Regions from separate parts of the Homo sapiens genome. Here region 1 is linked to region 2. Evidence: fine-mapped expression QTL. Tissue or cell type: whole blood. Region 2 holds a variant in brackets; the other region holds the start of a gene. All regions are shown on one strand. Distances are between the middles of the regions.

Region 1 (8,108 bases), 190 kb before region 2:
TCTTAGCTGGTCTCCCTCAAATAGTTTCACTCTCCTAGTTTCTTCCTAGTTCACTCCATCCAGGGTACTTTTTATAAAACCCAAGTTTGTTCGTGTCACTCCTCTACTTAATAATGTAAGCTGGGTCCCTGGTGCCTACAAAACTGAGTCCAAACTCCTTAAAAGCATGACTTACCAAGTGCTTAGCAATCCAGTAAATCTTTACTGACCACTCCCCTTCCTCGTTTCCAAACTACAGACTAAGTTAGTAATTTTTCTAAACCCCCATAAAGCCTTGTACATATCTCCACTGATTCTTTTAGTCTTTGATATATATCATCTATGCATGATTTATACCTGATTTTACCAGAATCACTTCCTGCCACTTTGCCCCACCCCATCCCTCTCTTCTCCAGCATCACTGAGCTTCTGATTATTCCTCACCAGCAATGCATGTCCTTTCACAAGCCTGGGCCTCAGCCCATGTTGTTTACTCTTCCTGGACTGTCCACCCTCTCTTCTTCATCTAGCAAATTCTTATGCATTAGTTAAGCTCATAAACCTGTCACCTCCCTGCTGATGACTTCCTTGAGCCAATCAGAAGAGTTAGTCATTTCTTCTGTGTTCCCGTAGCCCTTTGCCCATTCCTCCAGCAGTCACCACTGTTCACACTTTTGGCTGCCTTGCCTATTTTGAATACCTCCATTATGTTTGGCAAATTTTAGCCACATGAATTCCATTTCTCTGAGGTAGAAGCCCCAGATCCCAAATTTCCCTTGTAGCTAGGAAACAGTTAAATAACTTAGGCTCTTCTAATCAGATGTACCTGCAGGGAACTTTTTTGCTTGAAGTGAGCAATACATGCGCTGGTAATGGGTGTGAGGCAGGAAATTAATCTTCTGGTAAGATGGGTGTGAAGAGGCCTTTGATCCTTGGGGTGGCCAGTGGCAGAGTGGCTGTCATGTAGCCCATAGTGCTGAGAGATGGTAAGAGTGGTGTTTGTCAAAACAGCTACCTGGAGTGGTTGAGGATGCTTGGGCTTCAGTCTTGCTGTTTGGCTCTGTCGAATATTCTATGGGCCACCTAAAATCCCGTGGTAGGTTAATTTACTGCCTAAATAAGTCTGAGTGGATTCGTTCTTGCAGTGACTGAAAAACAACAACTGACCCACATTGGTTAGGACACTTACCAAGTTTCACTATTCATGTTTTCTTAAGTATCTGTCTCTCCCACTACATTACTCTCAGGTACTGTGTCTTATCCTTCTATGCAGAGTTCTACTTTCTTAACTCTTATAACAAATACATGTTGAGTGCCTACACTGCGCCATACGCTGTGCTAGTCATTGAGGACATAATTGAGAAAAAGAGACTTGTAAGATTTTTTCTTATGAAGTGTACAATTTAAAAAATCTGTCTGAGACCAGGCATGGTGGCTCATGCCTGTAATCCCAGCACTTTGGGAGGCTGAGGCAGGAGGATCACTTGAGCTCAGGAGTTCAAGATCAGCCTGGGCAACATAGAGAGACCCCATCTCTTAAAAAAAAAAAGAGAAAAAAAGACCTGTCTGAAACATCCTAGGTGTCCAACTGAGTGAGTACACCAATTCATTTGATTACTTACTTTACTTACTGGACATTTGCGTCTGGAAAATATAAGAATAAATGAGAAATGTTCTTAAGTTTCTCTGAGGCTAATAGGAGATATAGAAATGTAAACCAGTTTGATGCAACCTGAAAGGTGTGATAACAAAAATATGTTTCTGATTCACTGGTGGCACAAAGGAGGGGTGGAGTGAAAAATTCTGCTTGGAAAAGCCAGGAATGAAAGACTAAGTTACTGAACGTAGAAATATTTTTGAGTGTGCATAAAGATTTCTTCTTGTCCCTTTTCCCCCTTTTCTTCTCTTTTCCCTTCTTCCCTTTCCCTTTTCTTTGCCTTTTCTTACTGTTCCCTTTGCCCTTTAAGGTTCAATCCAAGGGCCATCTTCATAGTAAATCTTTACTGACCACTCCCCTTCCTCCCTTCCAAACTACCACGCTAAGTTAGTAACTTTTCTAAACTCCCCTAATACCTTGTACATACCACCACTGATTCTTTTAGCCTTTGATGTGTGTTTGTGTACATATATATGTATATCACATGATATATATATCAGATGATTTTATATATATATATATATATATATATATATATATATATATATATATATGATATAATCTATGCATCTGTCATTGCCTCCTCCCCCAAGTCAGGGCCTGGCACATAATTAGTACAGTACTCAATAAGTTCAATAACTGTTTCTTGAGGAAATATAAATTAAAACTGCAATGTGATACCACCACATCCCCATCAGAATGGCCACAATGAAAAGGATTGTTAATATCAAGTGTTGATGAAGATATTGAAAAACTGGAAATTTCAAACATGCTAGAAAGAATATAAATGGGAAACTTTTTTGGCAGAATTCACTAAAGCTGAACATATGCATATTGTATTACCCAACGATTGAACTTCCGGGTATAAGTATCCAACAGAAATGAATGTGTACATCTCAGAAGGTTCATATCAATTTTATTCATAATAGCCCCAAACTGGAAACAACCTAATGTCCATCCACAATAATGGATAAATGAATTGTGGCATATTCATATCATGGAACAGTATACAATAATTTTTTTAAATGAAAAACTGCTATGGGTCAGGTGCAGGGGCTCACCCCTGTAATCTCAACACTTTGGTGGGAGGCTGAGGCGGACAAGTCACTTGAGCTCAGGAGTTCGAGACCAGCCTAGGCAACATGGAAAAACCCAGTCTCTACAAATGTACCCCCTCCAAAAAAAAAAAAAAAGCCCGGTCCTGTGGTGTGTGCCTGTAGTCCTGGCTGCTCAGGAGGCTGAGGTGGGACGATCACTTGTGCTCAGGTGGTCAAGGCTGCAGTGAGTGCAGTGAGAGGTGATGGTAACAGTGTACTCCTACCTGAGTGACAGAGTGAGACCCTGTCTCAAACAAAACAAGACAAAAAACTGCTACAATATAAGCAACAATATAGATGATTTTCACCGACTAATATTGAGCAAAGCAAACCAGAAACAGAGTACATATTGTGATTTTCCACTAAAATGAAATTCCAGAAAAGGTCAAATTAATCTCCAGCAAAAGAGGATGAAATAATGGTTAACTTTTACAGGTGGGAGGGGTAATGTACTGGAAGAGGACAGTAGGGAGATTTTTAAAGTTTTGAAAGTATTCTATATTTTTATAATCATATATATTTACCTATTATTATTATTTGAGACATAGTCTCATCCTGTTGCTCAGGCTGGAGTGCAGTGGCGCCATCTCGGCTCACTGCAACCTCTGCCTCCTGGGTTCAAGCGATTCTCATGTCTCGGCCTCCCGAGTACCTGGGATTACAGGCGCACCTCCACCACCACGCCCAGCTAATTTTTTTTTTGTATTTTTAGTAGAGAAGGGGTTTCACCATGTTGGCCAGGCTGGTCTCAAACTCCTGACTTCAAGTGATCTGCCTGCCTCGGCTTCCCAAAGTGCTGGGATTACAGGCGTGAGCCACCGCTCCTGGCCTATAATCATACATTTAAAAGCCACATACGGAAGAATTTTCTAGGACAATGTCAACTCTCCATTAAAAAACTTTTCACACCCCAACCACATAAATATGTAAAAATTTGAGTTTTACCCTTATGATTTGTGCATTTTACTGTCTATAAATTACATCTTGATAAAAATGTAAATAAAAACAAATAAAAATGAATGTTCCTTGAATGAGTGAATAAACGAATGAATGAGTTGTGTTTTCAAAGAGGAAAATAAAGACATTACCGTGAAAGAGGATCTTGTACTGCATTGAATTTTTAAGTAGTGCTTAGTTCTTGCACTTTCTTTGCTCTAATGATGCCCAAAATAATTGTTCGTTTACTTACTTTGCTTAAGTATTAATTTCCTTTGCTATTTAGCCACGACTGTGAAGTTAAGACAAGAAAGTCATCAACAGTAATGCAGATGATGTAAATACCTTGTGGGACTGGCATTTAATTTACTGCGAGGGATCTATTAAGCTCTTGGGGAATTGGGGAATATGCCTAATTCCCTTCTGGCGTTTTTAATTTTTTTAATCCTTTTGTGTTTTATGAGATGTGAGTACAAATTAATTATTCAGACTCTTGAGAGAGGAGACGAGTTGGCGGAGTTGCCACCCGTGTTCACGAACAGGAACAGAAGCCACCAGCACATGACATTGCCCAAGCCACCCAGAGATCAGAGTGGAAGAGTCCTAATTGCTGGGCGGCCCAGCCCCGGGATGTGCCTCTCCCATCCTTCTCCAGGCGGGGCTCGTGGCTAAGCAGCGACTCACCCTGCCAGCCTGTCACAGGCCAAGAGCGGCCAACAACTCCGCAGGCGACAATGGCCGCTGCACCCCAGGCGCTGTGGAAGCCCGACCCGGCTCTGGGTCCCATCTTAGAGCCTGGGATGCAGTGTCGGGAGTCGCGGTGCCCAGAGCATCCAGTAGGTGTCGCTGTCCCACGGCCGCCGCGCGCCCCCGGGGTGGGGAGCCGGGGCGTGTCTGCCTCACCTGGGGCTCCCGGCGCGAGCGCCTCACCTGGGCTAGCGCCCCTTGCCGCCCGCGCCGCGCGGGGGCGCTCTTCCGCGGCTGGGTCCCCGCCTCCGCCCCAACAGCTCGGGCTGCAGTGCTGCTCGCGCTGCGCTGGGTGCTGGTTCTGCAACCCGCGGCCGTCCCCCCGCATCCGCGACGAGGGGGCGGGGTCCCACGGCGCGCTGAGAAAGGCGGGCGAGCTGGCGCTCAGGTGTGTTCTTCCATAGGGCCCGGGCGGCAGAGAGGACCGCGTCCCGGCAGTCGGAGCGGGAGGAGGACAAGACGATGCCGCTGTCCCCGCCAGCCCAGGGCGACCCCGGGGAGCCCAGCCCGTGCAGGCCCCCTAAGAAGCACACCACCTTCCACCTCTGGCGCTCCAAAAAGAAGCAGCAGCCGGCGCCGCCTGACTGTGGGGTGTTCGTTCCGCACCCGCTCCCGGCGCCTGCCGGAGAGGCCAGGTGAGCTCCTCGCCCGAGCCCTCCAGTCCCACCTCCTCCTCCTCCTCCTTCTCCTGCTGCGCTAGCCCTTGGACTCCTGACCCCACTTGGAGGAGGGGAAAGCCCCGGGGTCTGTTTCAGTCCGCAGGAGGGTACCCGGGTCCGGAGGGGAGCGATCGTAGCCGCTGGGGTTGACGAGGTTCCTCGCGGCTTTTGGTTCAGACCAAGCACCGGCGAGAGGAACTTGTGCCCACGCATGTGGCCTTTAGTATGACTGCAAAGTTTTCATGCAGGAGCCTCCCGCATCAGCCTGCTAACCAGAGCGGCGGGGAGTGAGGGTTGTTACCGTCCTAAATGATGGCGGGAACTCTGCTTTGGGGTTAGGCACTGCTTTTGAGCTAGTGTCTTTATTGTAAAGCTCTTTATTGTGAATATCTGTAAGATCTGTGCTCTTACAGATGTTATACCCCCATTCTCCTCGCAACATACGAAGGGAGGAGGAAGTGGCAGGAATGGTTACCCCCATTTCATGGGTGGAGGAACTGAGACCAAAGGATAAATGGCTTCTCCCCATTGGAGCCAGTGGCAGAGCTAGAGAGCACCTAGTTATCAAAACTGTAGTTACCATTGTGCTTTTTGATTTTTATCATGGTTTTGAAGTGGTTTTATTCTATATGTATAATTATTCAACTATAGCATCAGAGTTTATGCATTCGTTGAATAATAATCAATTTGAAGTAACAGCGTATTTACATGGCTCAGAGGTGTGAAATATTTATAGTGATGGACAATTGACAATGTCCAGTAAATCCTTCCAAATGTGTTTTTAAAATACACCCTATGAGGGCCAGAATAAAATTGTGCAAAATTTGCATTTTAGACATGGTTTTCCTTTTATTTCTTTCTTTCTTTTTTTTTTTTTTTTTCTGAGACGGAGTCTTGCTCTGTCACCCAGGCTGGAGTGCACTGGCCCAATCCCGGCTCACTGCAAGCTCCACCTCCCGGGTTCACGCCATTCTCCTGCCTCAGCCCCCGAGTAGCTGGGACCACAGGCGCCCGCCACCACGCCCGGCTAATTTTTTGTATTTTTAGTAGAAACGGGGTTTCACCGTGTTAGACAGGATGGTCTCGATCTCCTGACCTCATGATCCGCCCGCCTCGGCCTCCCAAAGTGCTGGGATTACAGGCATGAGCCACCGCGCCCGGCCTCTCCTTTTATTTGTAAAAAAAGTCAATTTTACGATCTATTTTCATTCACTTATTGTATTGAGTACCTTAGCTAAGTGCCATGTACTGCGATATAAAAAACAATGAGAGACAGGAATAATTGTGTCATCAAAGAATTGTTAGTCTCTTGTGGATACCAAAAAATGCAATGATAGATGCCAGCACACAGGAGGGGATCAGGGAGGCTTCCTGGAGGAGGATAGGTGAAGTGGCTTAGGCAGAAACAGGGAGGAGCAGCGAGTTCCAGGCAGGGGCTGCACTGTGCACATCACCAGCACTTAGAAGAGCGTGGCACTTCCTGAGAAGCGCAAGTGGTTGCAGCGGGGAGGTCTAGGTGTGAGTGGGTAAGGGTAGGAAACCTAAGAAAGAAGTCATTTTATTTTTCTCTCATATTTTATCATCCACATTGGTAATCAGTTGTAGTAGAAATATATTACCTATTCAAACGTTTACTGTGCCTAATTATAGATTATACTTTCTAACAAAATACAGTATTTAATGTACCCAACATTGAAGTTCTTTTCTATTACCTCAGTAAATATTTTAAACATTTCCATCGTGGTTTTCCTTTTAAGATCTAGTCTTATCATTTACTGTCTATCAAAACATAATAATACACAGCTATAGGTAATTTATTCAAATGTAAATACATTTTAGTATAAAATTTAAAATAGGAGGCCGGGCGCGGTGGCTCACGCCTGTAATCCCAGCACTTTGGGAGGCCGAGACGGGCGGATCACGAGGTCAGGAGATCGAGACCATCCTGGCTAACACGGTGAAACCCCGTCTCTACTAAAAATACAAAAATTAGCCGGGCATGGTGGCGCGCGCCTGTAGTCCCAGCTACACGGGAGGCTGAGGCAGGAGAATGGCGTGAACCCGGGAGGCGGAGCTTGCAGTGAGTCGAGATCGCGCCACTGCACTCCAGCCTGGGCGACAGAGCGAAACTCCGTCTCAAAAAAAAAAAAAAAAAAAAAAAATTAAAATAGGAGATTTGCTTCTCTCCTTGAGTTTTTTTATATTTTAGTGCAGTCTTGAAACACTTCATTTTTTCCTTCAGAACCGTGATGAACTTCGTATTAATAAATGTTCTGAAAAACTAAACGTACTAGTCTGTCTTTGGGATGTTTTTCTAGTTAGATCATCTTTATAAATATTTCATTTACTTCTAAGAGAGTGTACTTCTTTCTGGTTTAAAGAGAGTGGCAAAAGCACCCTTAGATTTCAAGCCAGTTTGCCCAGTGTGGCTCTCTTAAGCCTCCTGACCATATCCCTTCATTTCTGTCCAGGACTTGGAAGTGATGGAATTTGGCTGGAATGTGCAGCACTCACTGTGGTTTTTGTCTCTAAATAAGGAGGGGACAGTCAGGTAGCCACCCATATTTGCTTATTTGATTAATATTATGGGTGTTTAGGTCAGAAAAAAATGAATTTATCTACTAGCTTTGTGACCTTGGGCAAGTTATTTCACCTCTTAAAATCTCAATTTCCTCATCTGTAATATGGAGACAATAGGATGCTGACTCTGTAGGGTTGTCATGAATATTAAATGAAAGTTTATGTTATTAAGTGCAAAAACCTTAACACACTTCTGAGCACAAAGTAGAAACTCAGTAAATGCAAAAGCATCCTGGTCATCATCATCATCATCATCATCATCAAAGCAAAGGTCTAATGGAAGAAATGGAAAAGATAGGTTTGGATAGGGGAAAACCAACTCTAGGAAGATCTTTTCCTAGAAAAGTTTACCAGTCCAGCCGGGTGCGGTCACTCACGCCTCTAATCCCAGTACTTTGGGAGGCCAAAGCAGGTGGATCACCTGAGGTCAGGAGTTTGAGACCAGCTTGGCCA
Region 2 (8,108 bases):
AGGCGGGCGGATCACCTGAGGTCAGGAGTTCAAGACCAGCCTGACCAACATGGGGAAACCCCATGTCTACTAAAAAATACAAAATTAGCTGAGCGTGGTGTCACATGCCTGTGATCCCAGCTACTTGGGAGGCTGAGGCAGGAGAATCGCTTGAACTCAGGAGGCAAAGGCTGCGGTGAGCCAAGATCGCACCATTGCACTCCAGCCTGGGCAACAAGAGCGAAACTCTGTCAAGGAAGGCTGATACATTGGCCTGTTCAAGTTGATCAAATCTACAACCTTGCTTATTAGAATTATGCTCCAAGCTATTGAACAGTTTGATAGTTCGCTTTCTGATTTTTATATTTTTGCATCTTATAGATCTTGCACATTTCCCATAGAAGTGCACACTAAAGTTGCTCTTGTAAATCGCTAACTATTCATAATATTTTTGTTACTATCTGAAGTGAGTTTATCCAGTTTTGCTTGCTGAGGTTCTTTTGAGTCAGCCCTGATTAAACACACACACATACACACCACTCACACACACGCTCCCCTTCCCTTTTTTATACAACTCTGATATATGTCTCTTAGGTTATTTTCTTGGGGCCATTCTGTTATTCTCCTAAATTTTAAAGAATTCCAATGATAATAAAGCAGAAGGTCATGTCTAGCTTTATAACTATTTGTATTTTTCAATGAAATTGATATGTACCTTGAAAAAATGTTAACATGTCTGGAAATGACTACTCCTCGTGTTCTTTATGTTGCAGTTGGGTTGCATATGAGAAACCTGGATTTACCGGTCATCAGTATTTGCTAGAAGAAGGAGAATACAGGGACTGGAAAGCCTGGGGAGGTTACAATGGAGAGCTTCAGTCTTTACGACCTATATTAGGTGTAAGTAAAGGACAAGCTAATGGCTAATACTTGGTCTTCTTTGGATAATAAATGGCTAGCCTTTGAATTTTGAATTTTTTTTCTCAATAGGATTTTTCAAATGCTCACATGATAATGTACAGTGAAAAAAACTTTGGATCCAAAGGTTCCAGTATTGATGTATTGGGAATTGTTGCTAATTTAAAGGAGACTGGATATGGAGTGAAGACACAGTCTATTAATGTACTGAGTGGAGTGTAAGTGAAATAATCCAGTTGGAATTTTAAACATGCGTTTTACCTTGGTTTGTTTTAAACTGGTAAGAGTCTATCACAGAGTAGGCATTCAATACACAAATATCTCAACAGCTTAACATTAAATCAGTCATTTAATAGTTGCTGTCATGATATTTTCGTTAACTCTCTTTAAAAATCGTTCTCATACCATCTCTTCTTTTTACGTTTGGGGTAGGCTTTGGGTATCATGATAGAAATCTACAGATCTGTTTCCCTTGTCATTCTGCACAGAAAGATAGTGAATTTTTTAAATGATGGAGATCAAATAATAATAATAGTAATCTAACATAAACCTGAGGCTGGGTCAAAGTCCCAGTAGATTTTCCTGTGGTCCTACACCTGTTCCAGTATATTTCTTCACTATTAGTTTGACATAAAAATAATTGTTCTATGTACGTGGAGTTAGCAGTTGACTGTTTTATTAGTGGTGAAGCAAGTTTTTATTGAAAGATGTTTAGTCAAGATTCTTTGGGATGAAGTGACTGCAAGCCAAGCTAAATTGGCTCAAGGGATTAAAATGGAACTTACTGGCTTAAGTAACTAAAAAGTCCTGGAGAAGATTTTGCTTCAGGCATGCCTAGATGCAGCGGATCAAACACTATCAGAACTTAGTCTCTGTGTCTTGACTGGGCTTTTTTCTGTGTTAACTTGACTTTAGGTAGGCCTTTTGCATTTGGTGGCCTGTGGCCACATTCAGCTTTTGTTCTCCTAACTCTTTTTTTTTGAGGCAGAGTTTCACTCTGCCACCCAGGCTGGAGTGCAGTGGCAAAATCTCAGCTCACTGCAACCTCTGCCTCCTGGGCTTAAGCGATCCTCCTGCTTCAGCCTCCCAAGTAGTTGGGACCACAGATGTGTGCCACCAGGCCTGGCTAATTTTTGTATTTTTTTTTAGAGACAGGTTTTTGCCATGTTGCCCAGGCTGGTCTCAAACTCCTGAGCTCAGGTGATCCACCCGCCTTGGCCTCCCAAAGTGCTGGGATTACAGGCATGAGCCACCATGCCTGGCCCCAGCTCATTTCTTGCAGTGGAAAGAGCTTCTCTTTCTCACAAGTTCCATGTTTGACTTTGCTTTCCTAGGCTTGGGTCATGTGCACATGCCTGAACCAATCACTGTAGCCACAGAGACGGCCATGTCTGGGCTACGTGTCCATCTCCAGAGCTGAGATGTAGGGTCTATCCCATAGGAGCCACTTAGATATGAATGGGGTTGGTGGTTCCCCAGGGACATCAGAAAGAGTGGGGAGATAGATGCCAGATGGGCAAAAACAGCAGATGGCTGTTATAGGGAGTTACATAATTATTCTTGTAATCCAGGCTAATGTCTATTCTAATTTGTTATAAGTGAGAGTATTCTCAAATAGTTACATGAAATAATGTGACATTGGTTATGCTGAAAGTGTTTGGTGTTAGGTTTTTGTTGTCATAGTGACATAGACTATTTGAATCATCCTAGCCTCAACCCCATTGTATCTCATGGGGCCTCCCACAATAGCCCTGGATATTTGAAAAGTGTGTACAATGTACTAAAAGTTGATGAACATGCTTAACTTTTACTCTTAGTAAATAGAGTAAAAAAAACCTTGTTCAACAAGTTCTTGTCTAGGCCGTTGCATGTGGTGCCATTTTGGCAGAGTATCAGTGATTTCCGGGTATTCCATTCTCAGCAGGAAATGCCTACTCTTGGGTCCTATTCTGGAGCCCTAACATTTTAGAATCAGTAGCCTGTTTGCAAAAGCCAGAAGTCATCTGAAATATAAGGTACAAGTTATCTGAAATGTTGCTGGGGCTCTGCAGTATTTTAGATTGTCTTTAAAGCTAATTATTTAGGAGGAAAACATAGTGACCAACTTAGTCTGGTGAAACAGTTGTACATTTTGATACTCACCAGTTGTGTTGGTTCTATTAGTCAGAGCCTAGTCATCCACCCTGGCAGAGGAAGCAAAAGGATGCTGGGTAGAATGAATTCCCTTAGGTATTTTGTAGATGATGCTATTAACACAGGTAGAATTATTGTGCCTTGAGCCAATCTCCTTTCCTTTTTAACCCAGGCCTTGCTTACTTGAAATCAGTTCCCTTTATAAAGTGCTGCTATTATATGTTTCTATTTTTAGTCATTTCTAATTGCATTTCCTGGCTTAAGCTTCTTTTTTCTGGCTGTAGCAGTTAAGTTTTGGTAGAAGGGGGAAGTTGAAGGGAGCTACGTACACATACGTGGACACACACACACACACACACACACACCACTTCCTTTGAAATTCTTTGCATATGGAAGGGCTTTTGTATTTACCAGGGCCAGGTGCTTCCTCATATTTTGTTCGATTTGTCATTTGACAAGTATTTATTGCGGTCTGTTATGTGCAAAGCATTGTATTATGTCCTCAAAGAAGTTACGGTATTTATGTAAAACATAATTATTGCTACAAAAGAGGTACAGATTAAATGCTCTGGGAATCCACAGCAGAGAGAGATTAATTTCCAGTCTGGACACAGGGAAGGAAGACTTTGTGGAGGAGGTGGCATTGGAGTTAGGCCTGTGGGATAGGATAGGAAGGCTGAGATGAGCCAAGATGATGGAGGAGGACTACCTATTCACTTTAAATAGTTTCAAAGGAAAATTATTGTATTTTAATGGCTTTATTTTTATTGGCAATTAAGTATTTTAGCTTGGTTCTTTATTTCTTATTATGGCATGCATTGTCAGAAAAAAACTCTTCTGAAGTTCTTGTTCCATGAAAGTATCTCCCAGGAGGCTCACCATCACATGGGTAATACATCCCCTGGGCAGTAAACTCATCATTAGTCCTGAAACAGAGAACAGCCTTCAGGAAGGATGCCCATGAAACCAGCAACTGAGGTTTTTAGGAACTGCATTTGATTCTTACTGGAAATGTCGAAAGAAACTCCCTGCTTATCAGTTTCTAGTTCTATGCTATATTCTTGCTCAAATAGTGGAAACTGGGCTAGTTTTTTAAAACTAGGAGCAAAATGAAATATTTCTGGTATTCAGATGAAAACGAAAAGTGTTGTTGTTTTAAATTCTTTTTCCTTTGGCCTTCCACGGAAGGGCAGGTTTACCCTGCTGCCCTTATCTTCTGAGCAATTATTCCACCAGGCTGGGACCTGCTAGTACTTGTGTACATGCCTTTCCCCCGTCTCCCCACCAGTCTTTAAACAGAGGAGTGTTGATTCATGTGTACAGAATACATCTGGACAAGGACAGGGAGGGATTTTCTTAAGAGCCCCAAGTGTAAGTTGTAAGTAGACTCTCGGATCATAGAGCAGAGAATCTCAGATCTGGGTTTTGCGGCTTCTCCCCTCCCCCACTCCCCCCATTCATGGGTGATTCATCAGGTATCTTGGAGGGAAAACAACACTACTGTCAGTTCAAGTAACATCTTAATAAATTGTTTTCCAGCTTCAGCTTCAGTGAATTAGAGATAGGCTTAGCTGGGTGTTGGGTATTTACTTACAAGTAGTTTAGTTTCATAGGAAAATACAGTACCCATACTTGTTAGTAAAAAGAA[C/T]AGAGTACTGGCTAAAGCTGCTTCCAGGGCTGTCCTCTCTCCTTGGCATTCAGCCTCCCACCTCACTGTCTTTTTTCCCTCCAAACCTTGAAGTCAAACAGAAAGGCCTTTAACCCTCTTATCTCTCTACTTGTTACAGACTCGGAGCCCTGGTGAGAACCCTTTTTTTGATGTGGCTCTACTTCTTTAATTGTTCGTTGTTTTTTTAAAGTCCTAGTGTTTGTAACGTAGATTTTCTTTTTTTTTAAATTTTATTATTATTATACTTTAAGTTTTAGGGTACATGTGCACAACGTGCAGGTTAGTTACATATGTATACATGTGCCATGTTGGTGTGCTGCACCCATTAACTCGTCATCTAGCATTAGGTATATCTCCTAATGCTATCCCTCCCCCCTCCCCCCACCCCACAACAGTCCCCGGTGTGTGATGTTCCCCTTCCTGTGTCCATGTGTTCTCATTGTTCAATTCCCACCTATGAGTGAGAACATGCGGTGTTTGGTTTTTTGTCCTTGCGATCGTTTGCTGAGAATGATGGTTTCCAGTTTCATCCATGTCCCTACAAAGGACATGAACTCATCATTTTTTATGGCTGCATAGTATTCCATGGTGTATATGTGCCACATTTTCTTAATCCAGTCATGTAGATTTTCTTGATGTGCAGACACTCCTCCCACATAGCAGTGCTCCCTGCTCTGGCTTTACTGTTGCTTCCTTTCATGCTGGGGGTAAAGCCTGAGGCCCTGTGGGCAGAGGCAGCACATGCGGGTACCCGTGTGCTGTACAGCATCACCTGGTCAGCCCGGGGACCTTGGCCCACTCTCCTACTTACACTTGAAAATACAAACTTTCACAAAGGTTAAGTGAGTTCTTCAAAGTTATCTGAAAGTTAATGTCATGGCCACAGGTGGAGCCAGGTCTCCTATCTCCTCACCTCTCAGTGATAAAGGATAGGTTTTTAGGCCGGGAACAGTGCTCACGCCTGTAATCCTAGCACTTTAGGAGGCTGAGGTGGGTGGATCACTTGAAGTCAGGAGTTTGAGACCAGCCTGGCCAACATGGTAAAATCCTGACTCTACTAAAAAAAATAAAAAATAAATAAAAATAAAAAAGAACAGGTTTTAAAAATTGCTAGTGAGGTTCTGAAATCGGGGGATGGGGGGTGGTAGGGGGCTGTATTTCCTGAAAGACTGAGTGGTGCATATAGCAGCTTCTCCATTTGGATGGCTGGGAGTGAGTGCACAGATGTTGGCTGTTATTAGCTACTTCTCACTGGAGATTTTGGCAGTGTTCTTTTTTTCCTTGATGGCTGTTCATATTCTAGTAATTACTGTACTTGAGTTTTTGTTTAAATCAGCCCTTTGGATAGTAAAATCATAATCTGCTCTAATTATAAAGTGTGTGGACTGTTTTAGGCATGGTTTACTAGAACAGTAAATGAAAGGGAACTTTCCAGGGCACATGGCAGGTTGGGTCACAAAGCAAGGAGAGCCTGGTGGGCCTCAGGACAGGTAGGTTCAGTCACGTTCTGGCCAATAGTCGATTGTGTCACCCTGGACAAGTCATTTCCCATTCAAAACAAATACCAACAAATACTTCCATGTGATGCTGCTTACCCATCTGTGGGCTTTGGAGGACAGAGATTTTGTCTTTTTCATCTTTGTATATCTAGTGCCAGTCTAGTTCCTGGCACCTGGTAAATGAATTAACTTACTGTGTCTTAGGTTTTTCCCATCTGTAAAATGGGAACACCAATACCTCCCTAGGAGATTAAATGTGATAACAGATGTGGAAACATTTTGCAAAGTTCTGATCACCCTACATAATACATACATAGATATTATTCCTTTAAGCTTTGAGAGGATCATGAGAATGATGAATTAATTGAAAAGATACTTAATGTCTTCAATATAATGGTATTAAGTATCTCTTTAATATAACAGAACTGAAAAACCTTTTCCTTTCAAAGACTTTATCTTTGCATAGGAAATAGCATCATTAAATTGGTTTTGTTGATTTTCCTCTGGGTGTAGATCACTTAAAAGAGAAAAAAACATTCCAAAAGAGATTTATTTTTAGTATTTCTATGAGTTTGCTCAATTTTGTTTATTTAATTTTTACATATTTATGTGATGTTGGAAACACTGTTGGAAACAATATTTTAGTTCTGTTCTGCATTTTTAAAAGCATTTCTTCTGTTAACTTCTTTTTCAGTGTGGTTTGTTGTGTAATAGACACAGCTTCCTAAGATCTTTCTGCAAAAATATTTTAAGGTTGAGAATGAAAGGACTTATTGATTGCTTATTAAAAGAACTAGGTTCTTCTTGAAAGTCCTGTTTGTTTTGTTTCCTTAGAATACAATTAGAAAAAAAAAAGCACAGAGAAGTATTGCCTTTGTAGCTTTCTCAAGAAATAGTATTTGATAAGCGAGAACGCCAAAAAGTTCATGTCAAGATACCCTTACGCTTACCATTTCTTTTGCATTAAGTTTTTTTTCAACTCTTATTTTAGATTCAGGGGGTACATGTGCAGGTTTGTTACATGGGTATATTGCATGATTTCCTGAAGTTTGGGGTACGGTTGAACCCGTCAACCTGAGCATAGCATGCAACAGGTAGTTTTTCAAACCCCCCTCCCTCCTGGCCCCTTTTGTAGTCCCCAGGGCCTATTTTTTTTTCTTCTTTATGTCCATGCATGACCAATGTTTAGCTCCCACTTATGGGCAAGAACATGCTCATAAGTATATGTTCTTGCTCATAAATATTTGGTATTTGATTTTCTGTTTGTGTTAATTCGCTTAGGATAGTGACCTCCAGTTGCATCCAAGTTGCTGCAAAGGACTTGATTTCATTCTTTTTTATGGCTGTATAGTATTCCATGGTTTATATGTACCACATTTTCTCTATCCAATCCACCATTGATCAATGAACACCTAGGTTGATTCCACATCTTGATATTGTGAATAGTGTGGCAGTAAACAAGACACGTGCAAGTATCTTTTTGGTAGAATAATTCGTTTTCCCCTGGGTATATCCCAGTAATGGGATTGCTGGGTTGAATACTAGTTCTATCTTTAGTTCTTTGAGAAATCTTCAAACTGCTTTCCACAGCAGCTAAACTAATTTACATTCCCACCAGCAGTGTATAAATGTTCCCTCTTCTCTGCTGGCTTACCATTCTGATTTGTCCTATAGACAAACCCATCTGCTTCTAAAGGTTAATGGAGAATCAGAAAAATTAAAATTTCAATTGGCAAAACAAATGAAAGTTTCTGTATGATACATAGATATCCAAATATGTGATCGTTTTATATGTAAAATATGAACTCCAACAAGTGATTGCTTTTGTTTCTTAGATGGGTAGCCTATGAAAATCCTGACTTCACAGGAGAACAGTATATACTGGATAAAGGATTTTATACCAGTTTTGA

Evidence for each region. PIP is the estimated chance that this variant, and not a neighbour inherited with it, causes the effect.
Region 1: it holds the start of CRYBG1, and the variant in region 2 is fine-mapped to the expression of CRYBG1 in whole blood (TOPMed, PIP 0.96).

Annotation. Positions count from the first base shown.
Region 1 is chr6:106,356,031-106,364,138 of GRCh38, forward strand. CRYBG1 (crystallin beta-gamma domain containing 1) reads left to right here and starts at 4,687. Exons shown (of 22, transcript NM_001371242.2): 1 at 4,687-5,051. The coding sequence starts at 4,879. RefSeq lists silencers at 4,488-4,697, 4,718-4,797 and an enhancer at 4,693-5,559.
Region 2 is chr6:106,543,819-106,551,926 of GRCh38, forward strand. It overlaps CRYBG1 (crystallin beta-gamma domain containing 1), which reads left to right. Exons shown (of 22, transcript NM_001371242.2): 12 at 753-879; 13 at 970-1,115; 14 at 8,034-8,108. Among named protein-coding and RNA genes, the nearest start is that of RTN4IP1, 82 kb to the right of the region's middle. The variant C/T (reference allele first, on the strand shown) is at 4,679.